2 linked regions of the Homo sapiens genome follow. The protein of the gene in region 2 purifies or fractionates together with the protein of the main gene of each other region. This does not show direct contact. Each region holds a gene or a part of one and is shown on either strand. Other genes may lie near its edges.

Region 1 (3,824 bases), on a different chromosome or scaffold from region 2:
GAAATTGTTTCTAATCGCTCTTCCAGGTTGAAACAGAATCCTCATTGGCATGATGAAGATTAAATGAGACAATGGACTGGAGGGAACATAAATAAAAGATATCATTATCAATTTTATTAACATAAAACTTCCTTTCTAGTTTCCAAATGATGGATATTAATAAATTATTATGAGTATTCCCAATCCAGTGTTCTTGAAGTTAATTAAAACACAAAACTCCACATTCATTTCCCTGTGCCTTGCTGCCTCTCTTCCTCTTTGTCGTTTCCTCCTCTTCTTTCTCTTCATTCTCTTTCATTCTGTCTCCTCCTTCTCTTTTCTCTCCCCTCCATCCTCTCTCCCCTACTGCCCTCCCTCTCCTTCTTCTTCTCCTTTTACCAGGAAGTCTTTCCCATATTCCCAAGGGAGTTCTTTGCTCTAACTCTGCTCCCTCTGCATGGCATTGATTGCATTGGGTTATATGCTGTTCGTGACCTTGTTAATCTCCAAAGACTGAGACACAATGGCAAAGGCAATGTCTTACTGCCTCAGAATATGGCACACAGTAAGTGCTCAATAGTGGTTTGATGGACGGATGGATGAGGAAAGAGATCATTCCCTTCACTGCCATCTAATTTTATTTCCTCTTACCATTCTCTGCTGATATTGTCTCTTTGATCCCTGGCTTGTCATTCTCTAGCCTCACTTCTCAAGTTTCTTGTCGGGCATTCCAACTAATCGTTATATTTTCATGTCAAATTCAACATAGAGTATTCTCATATTTTTCTGGGCAACTCCTCAATTCATTCCCTGATTCACCTGTGAATTCACTTCGGTTGAATCAGTCTGTCATTGACCTGAGGCACTTTGCAACATTTGACTTCCATGCTTCTGTCATACAGCTTCTTCTACCTGAAAGGTCATTTCTTTTTTTTTTAATCAACTTCTCTAAAAATCTTATCTAATCTTCAAGGCCTAACTCAGTTGCCCTATCTTGAGGTCTTCCTTGATCATTCATCACTGCTGGGCAGGATGTCCCTCCTCTTGTCTCCTATGGAATATATCTGTACAACCCATATGAAACATTTTACTTAATACCTTATATTTTAGTTACCTCTAAATCAGTCTTATTTGCCTTCATATATAGCCCTTTGAGGGAATAAACAAGGCTGTGAGTTAGGAAACCTCACCTTACCTTGATGGCATCAACACTTGATAGACTGAATATCTTTATCTAAGTTTGATGGTGTTTCTGTCTCATGATCCTCACTCTAATTCAGCAACAATAATAGTAACAGTGTCTTGTGCTTGTGCTATGTGCTTTTATTTTGAGAATTATTCTTTATTTGCCTCCAATTCAAACTATGATTTCTTCCAGTTTTTTAAAAAAGTAACACCCTTGACCATTCAGGACACTGCAGGCTCCCAGGAGTAGGGAGAGAGTGTGGCAAGTGTAACGGAGCAGCTCCAGAGAGGAGGTGGGCATTGGACCTCTTGAAGAAAGGCCCTGAAATCTAAATGACCCATCTGAGAATTAACAAACTCCATTTTGATCCACATCAATGCTGACATTGGAAAAGACAGGGCCAGTTGTGGCCAATGAGCTTCTAGTGAATGGCCATTCACAGCATCACAGCAGTGCATGGTAATGGGTTTCCAGGGCCATCCGAATTAGTGCAAAGGATCCTGGAATTTAATTCCCCCTCCAGGTGGGGTGAGGGAAGACTGCTCTGAGATAAACAATGAGATTGCAGTTCAACCAACAAGGTAAAGTTCAAGGATAGAGTGCAGGTCTAATAGAGACCTGGAAAGCAGGATATTTAAATTGGTAGCTGAGTATGGCTGGGACAGAGTGTGTAGACACGAGTTCAGTGGACAAAGTTTTTGTGATTTATTCATGTTTTTGTTCTAGGTTCCTCTTTTACATTATCAGCTCTCTCAGAGAGCTCAATTCCTCTTTTGCCTTCAACCATTACTCTCTCTGGGCAACTATATTTTTTGGTCTCAGAGAGACCATTTTATTTGGAGTCTGAGTGAGCAACTGCTACCTTTCATTTTGCTGAAATTATGCTTGCCCCTACCAGGTAGAGAAACAGTGATACCAGGCCAGTGCTTGTCTGGACCTCGCTGTTGCTCCTGTTGCTATGTGCATGGTTTCAAATCAGGTTATCTGTTGCCCATTCCCCAGCTCCCTGCAGGGCTTGGAGATTGCCTCCCTTCCTCTACTCCCTTCTTAGGTTCTGCTCCACAGTACTTGCCAGAGCATCATAATAGAACCAGTAATTGTCACCAACTCCTGAAAATGGGGGTTAGGGGAACGGGGCTGTTGAGGGGGGAGTCATCACCTCTCTGTGTCCCCCATCTTCAAATTTCATGAAACATCATACATACCTTTTAGTTTTATAGTTGTAAAGAATTTTTAAATTCTAAGTCAGAGAAATTATAGAGTTTCAATAGCTAAAATCCCTGGTATTTGTTGGAGTTTAGATAGAGGTAAACCTGATCTTATTTAGCTACATTTGTCTCTGAAACATTTTTAAATTCTAGGTAACTGCTGCCTTCAAAAAATAAAACTCTTTCTAATGGAGATATTTCTTCCCTCCCCTCCTCTCCTATCCCCTTCCCACCTCCCACTTTTCTTCCCTCTTCCCTCCTTCTCCTACCTTCCCTTCCTTTCCCCCCATCCCTTTTTTTCCTTCCCTGACCCCACCCCACCTTTCCTGTAGAAAGACTACAGGAAACATTTAAATTAGTACTGCAATCTGCAACTGAAGTTTTTCTCCGCATATATCTTGATTCTAATAGGAAATTTGACAAAGTTTACCAAGATAGTTTGACTCAACAATTCCTTTAAAAATCCTTTAAAATGAGAAGATATAGCTTTTTAAAAATTCATTTTATTTGATGTAGTAATTCTACTTATTGGGATCTATCTTAAGAAAATAATCAAGAAGGCAAAACAAAATTATCATATATAAATATTCCTTAGATTATTAATTATAATAGCAAAAATCTAGAAATCACCTAAATACACAACAGTAGAGAAATGACTACGTAAATAATAATAGCATATTCACATAATAGAATAGTATGAAGCCATTAAGATTATGTTTCTGAAAACTTTTGAATAACACAGGAAGGTGTTATTAAAGTCTTTCATTAATACCAATGGAAAAATATAGGCTACAAAATTATATAGAATCTAACCTCAATTATGTAGTATAATAGTCATAAAAGAGAAATTCAAAGGTTAGCAGGTGTTGCTTCTTGTCGGTTAGGTAAGGGGGATTGGATTTTTGTGCTCTTCATATTTCCCAAGTCTTCTGCAGTGAACAGGTTTAATTTTACAATCAGGAAAGCCACATTGCTGTTATTTTTAAAGACTTGATTCAAAGGTTGTCTGTTAAAAATTCAAGGAATATACAAACAGCTGATTTAATATTTCCTCTAAGTCTGCATTTCCATGCTGGAGAAAAGGGAGATAACTTACAGGGAGAGGACTTAAAGCCCCCTTTCTTTCCAATACATTCTTGGGAGAGAATGGATGACCACACATGCAGGAAATATATTCATTGGAAGGCCTGAGGGGGTGAGTTTATAGTGTGCTCACCAGGCTGAGCAAGAAAAAATAGAAGGAGCACTTGGCAGACATGGAGACAGAGACCTGAAGTCTCATCCCTAATTCTACCTTGAACTCTAATCTTAGGAATGCCATTGGTAACCTCCCTGGGCTGTATCTGCATGTTGGAAACATGGTGACATTCCCTGTCGCTGTCATTTCCTAAAGCTCTGGCATCCGAGACCTTTTGGTCTCACTGAGCAGGTATCACAGAGGGTCGGGGCTC
Region 2 (4,401 bases):
CTTAGGAATTATAGCACCTTCCTTTGTCACAAGTAACGCTGCCCGAAGCGTGCATCTAAAATGTTAGCTCCTCACGCATGTCATGGAAGAAAATGCAGGAGCCAAAAAGAAAAAAGAACAAGTTTTTTTCCTCCAATTAAAACTGTTCTACTTTTCACTCATCTGTTAGCATTTCAGAGCCTGGAGTCGGGTTTTGAAGGGCCTCTGCTGCTGTCTCAGGCTTAAGGCACTTCCATCGATTCTGTATTCCAGGTCATTGATCAGACATGGTGGGGTGCGTGTCTTGGTGCTACGTGATAAATTTAGGTCCAGAGCTGTAAATTTTAATAAATCATCTATAAAACAGCAGTAGCCAGTGAAACAAGGAATGACTGTTTTTGTGCCCTGTGTGTCCATAAATGCATATACAGAATAATTTATTCCTAGCCTACACACAAAAAATAACGATCATTGTGAATATCTGTTGTTTTTCCAGACATATGATACAGAAAATGATAGCTTAACCATCACCTAAATTTTATTTATTTTTATTTATTTTATTTTTATTTTTTTGAGACGGAGTCTCACTCTTTTGCCCAGGCTGGAGTGCAGTGGCGCGATCTCAGCTCACTGCAAACTCTGCCTCCCAGGTTCACGCCATTCTCCTGCCTCAGCCTCCCGAGTAGCTGGGACTACAGGCGCCCGCCACTGCGCCCGGCTAATTTTTTTTATTTTTAGTAGAGATGGGGTTTCACCATGTTAGCCAGGATGGTCTCGAACCCCTGACCTCAGACGATCTGCCCGCCTTGGCCTCCCGAAGTGCTCGGATTGGGCGTGAGCCACTGCGCCCAGCTGATTTTGTTTTTTAAAGTGTTATATTTTCATTCATTCAGAGTTGAATTTTGTAATCTGAATTATGGAGTCATATCAAATGGAACCAACCAGTTAAACCAGTAACTTATAGTGTATTTCACTTTCTTCAATTGTATTTTTCCTTTAGTGAACAGGTGGAAGCATTCTGGATAAGGGAGTAGTGAGCCCTTTAAATGCCTTACCTTTCTCTAAAATAGGGTATGGTCTGTATTTGCTTCAGTACTCCAGAGCAATGCCATTTTATTGTATTTAAGTCAATCCATTTTACAAAACAGAAGTAATTATTCTGTCACAAAAGGAAAGACGCCACTTTTAGTACGTACATATATTCCATATTAAGAACAAAATTAAGTAACTAAACTTAAGTTTCTTAGAGTTGCCTGGATAGTGATTAAATGTTCTTCTCATCTTAAAATATTGTTTGTCATCTTGAAATTTATGCAAGTAAGTACAAAGTTATATAAATATACTGAGTTTTCATTATTGCTTTTCTGAAATTAACCCCAGCCCTAGCCTGAATAATTATCCTTTTGACTATGCAAAAGGTATATTTGTATGTCCTCCAAAACACACATTGTGCTTTGCATATAGTAGGGCCTCAATACATGTACAATGTAAGGATGGATATAATGATGTTTGTAATTTCCCACGGTAATGTCCCATGTATAGTCTCTTGATTTAGAAAATCTCCTTTAATATTTTCTCAGAGTACTGCATTTAAAACAATGGTGAAAACTATTGGGACTTTAAATGTAAAATTTATACAAGGATTATTTATAGTCCCTTATGTGTGCATGTGCAAGGAGTACTATGCTTGAAGTCAGAAAAAACGCATTTGATTTCTGGCCACAAGTACCATCCATGTGACCATGAGACAGTCACTTAACCCCTTTGAACCTCATTTTTGTCTCATTGAAAGAGTGTCCCCATCTAGCATTCAAATTCTTTGGAATCTAGACTGATACCTGAAAATCAAGCCATACATTGTTTTCATGAATTATCTCATTTACTCTACATAATAGTCTATGGAGGCAATGAGGACAGATAAATTTCTCCCTAGTTAATATGATAAATGGGCTTGGAGATGTCAGTGGACTTGCCCAAGGATGACACACACAGTTTGTGACAGAGCTGCTCTGTTCTCTGCTACCATGCTGTCCCTCATTTTCAGCTAGGATGCATTTTTGTTACTATCTAATCATGTCACTTTTAACATTTTGTAAAAACTTACTGAGTTATTTTATTATAATTCTTTGAAGACTGATAACTTCCAATAACTGTACTTAGAAAATATCCCCATTTAATCATTATTTGAACCTGTTTTAATGTATTCATCTCATACCTTAAAAAATTCTAGTAGCGTTTTCCATTTTGTTGTAAAATATTCTTAAATAGGAAAGGACAGTTGACATCCTTCAGTCTTTTCTATGTAGTAAGGAAAATAATGTGTATTGTAGAAAGCTTAGGTAATCTTATAGTAGAAAAAAGTTCTACCAATTTTTGTAAGAAACTTGATTTGAGGTGGTCGTATATTTTTCAGACGTGCTCATAGATCTGTAGTATATTCCCGGTGGGTAATAGTTTATAGTTTTGCGACTTTTTTAAGGAACCAGTCATTGTAAGTCTGTATTTTTGTGTAAAGTATGAAACTTCCTTTGAAAAGGGGTTTATTTTTATTTTTTCTCTTATAGGAACAATTGGCTTCTTTGCATGCTTTTGGTTTGTTACCAAAATATACAGTGTGGTGAAGGTTGACTGAAGAAGTCCAGTGTGTCCAGTTAAAACAGAAATAAATTAAACTCTTCATCAACAAAGACCTGTTTTTGTGACTGCCTTGAGTTTTATCAGAATTATTGGCCTAGTAATCCTTCAGAAACACCGTAATTCTAAATAAACCTCTTCCCATACACCTTTCCCCCATAAGATGTGTCTTCAACACTATAAAGCATTTGTATTGTGATTTGATTAAGTATATATTTGGTTGTTCTCAATGAAGAGCAAATTTAAATATTATGTGCATTTGTAAATACAGTAGCTATAAAATTTTCCATACTTCTAATGGCAGAATAGAGGAGGCCATATTAAATAATACTGATGAAAGGCAGGACACTGCATTGTAAATAGGATTTTCTAGGCTCGGTAGGCAGAAAGAATTATTTTTCTTTGAAGGAAATAACTTTTTATCATGGTAATTTTGAAGGATGATTCCTATGATGTGTTCACCAGGGGAATGTGGCTTTTAAAGAAAATCTTCTATTGGTTGTAACTGTTCATATCTTCTTACTTTTCTGTGTTGACTTCATTATTCCCATGGTATTGGCCTTTTAAACTATGTGCCTCTGAGTCTTTCAATTTATAAATTTGTTATCTTAATAAATATTATAAAAATGTCTTCATTGCATCATTACCTATTATATATTCAAGGAGGTTCTGTAAATACAGATCTATTTACCAAGGTGTTTTGAAATGATTTATACTATTTTATCAGATTTTACTGGATTTTGTTAATGTAACACTTTCTGAGTTTTGATCTGAATGGAATTTCACTGTGTAAGGCATTGTCTAAAATGTTCACTGTGAGGCAGTAGAGGAGGTTGAAGTCATGCATATCTAGACAGATGAATTATCTGCAAGTACTTAAGGTGGAGCCTTACTACATTGTCATTAAGGAGTTTCTATTTTTGACTTGTTTTTCAAAATACAGTGTTTTAAGTCAGGTTTTATTACCTGGACATTAGCAATCACTAGCAAGTCTTCATCTTTATGATTTCATTGTTTTAATTTAGATTTCACAAACAGTTTTACTTCTAAGAGTTAAGAAATGCACTGTCTTTCACATTCATCTGACTAATTGAAATCCATTTATGTAGAATATAGGAATGGGGGGTGATTCTGAAGTATCGGTCTGCTTGTATCTGTGAGCATATTCATTTGTATTTTAGGGTCTCTCTGCTTGCTGCTTAGGAGAGCAAATCAGATACTGTCATTAAACTTACAACTAAAATTACTAGCTGTCACTTATATGATATTGCTGGGTTCTTACTGAATAATTTTTTTTTTTTTTTGAGACAGAGTTTCCTTCTTGTTGCCCAGGCTGGAGTGCAATGGCGAGATCTCGGCTCACCACAACCTCCGCCTCCCAGGTTCAAGCAATTCTCCTGCCTCAGCCTCCTGAGTAGCTGGGATTACAGGCATGTGCCACCACGCCCGGCTAATTTTGTATTTTTAGTAGAGACGGCATTTCTCCATGTTGGTCACACTGGTTTCAAACTCCTGACCTCAGGTGATCTGCCCGCCTCGGCCTCCCAAAGTGCTGGGATTACAGGTGTGAGCCACTGCGCCCAGCCTTACTGAATAATTTTATGTCACTGTCCTTTTTTAAAAAAACGGACCTGTTGGTTTTGAAGAGTAAAGGAGGAGCTCTGTTCATTTTTAACATGGAATATTTAAGATAGAAGAGTTTCTTTCAGTTTTATGTATCTCTTGTATTTATTTTTTATGGGTAGAGTTGTCCCTTAGTATTTATGGGAGATTGGTTCCAGAACCCTT

Evidence for each region.
Region 1: the proteins of TM9SF2 (region 2) and TACR1 purify together in Homo sapiens (co-immunoprecipitation; one large-scale study listed by IntAct). This does not show direct contact.

The regions. Positions count from the first base shown.
Region 1 is NC_000002.12:75,192,748-75,196,571, forward strand, and holds part of TACR1 (substance-P receptor), read right to left. Parts: intron 1-3,824. UniProt on the Homo sapiens protein: This is a receptor for the tachykinin neuropeptide substance P. It is probably associated with G proteins that activate a phosphatidylinositol-calcium second messenger system.
Region 2 is NC_000013.11:99,560,148-99,564,548, forward strand, and holds the end of TM9SF2 (transmembrane 9 superfamily member 2 precursor), read left to right. Parts: intron 1-2,543; coding exon 2,544-2,611; 3' UTR 2,612-3,901; downstream 3,902-4,401. UniProt on the Homo sapiens protein: In the intracellular compartments, may function as a channel or small molecule transporter.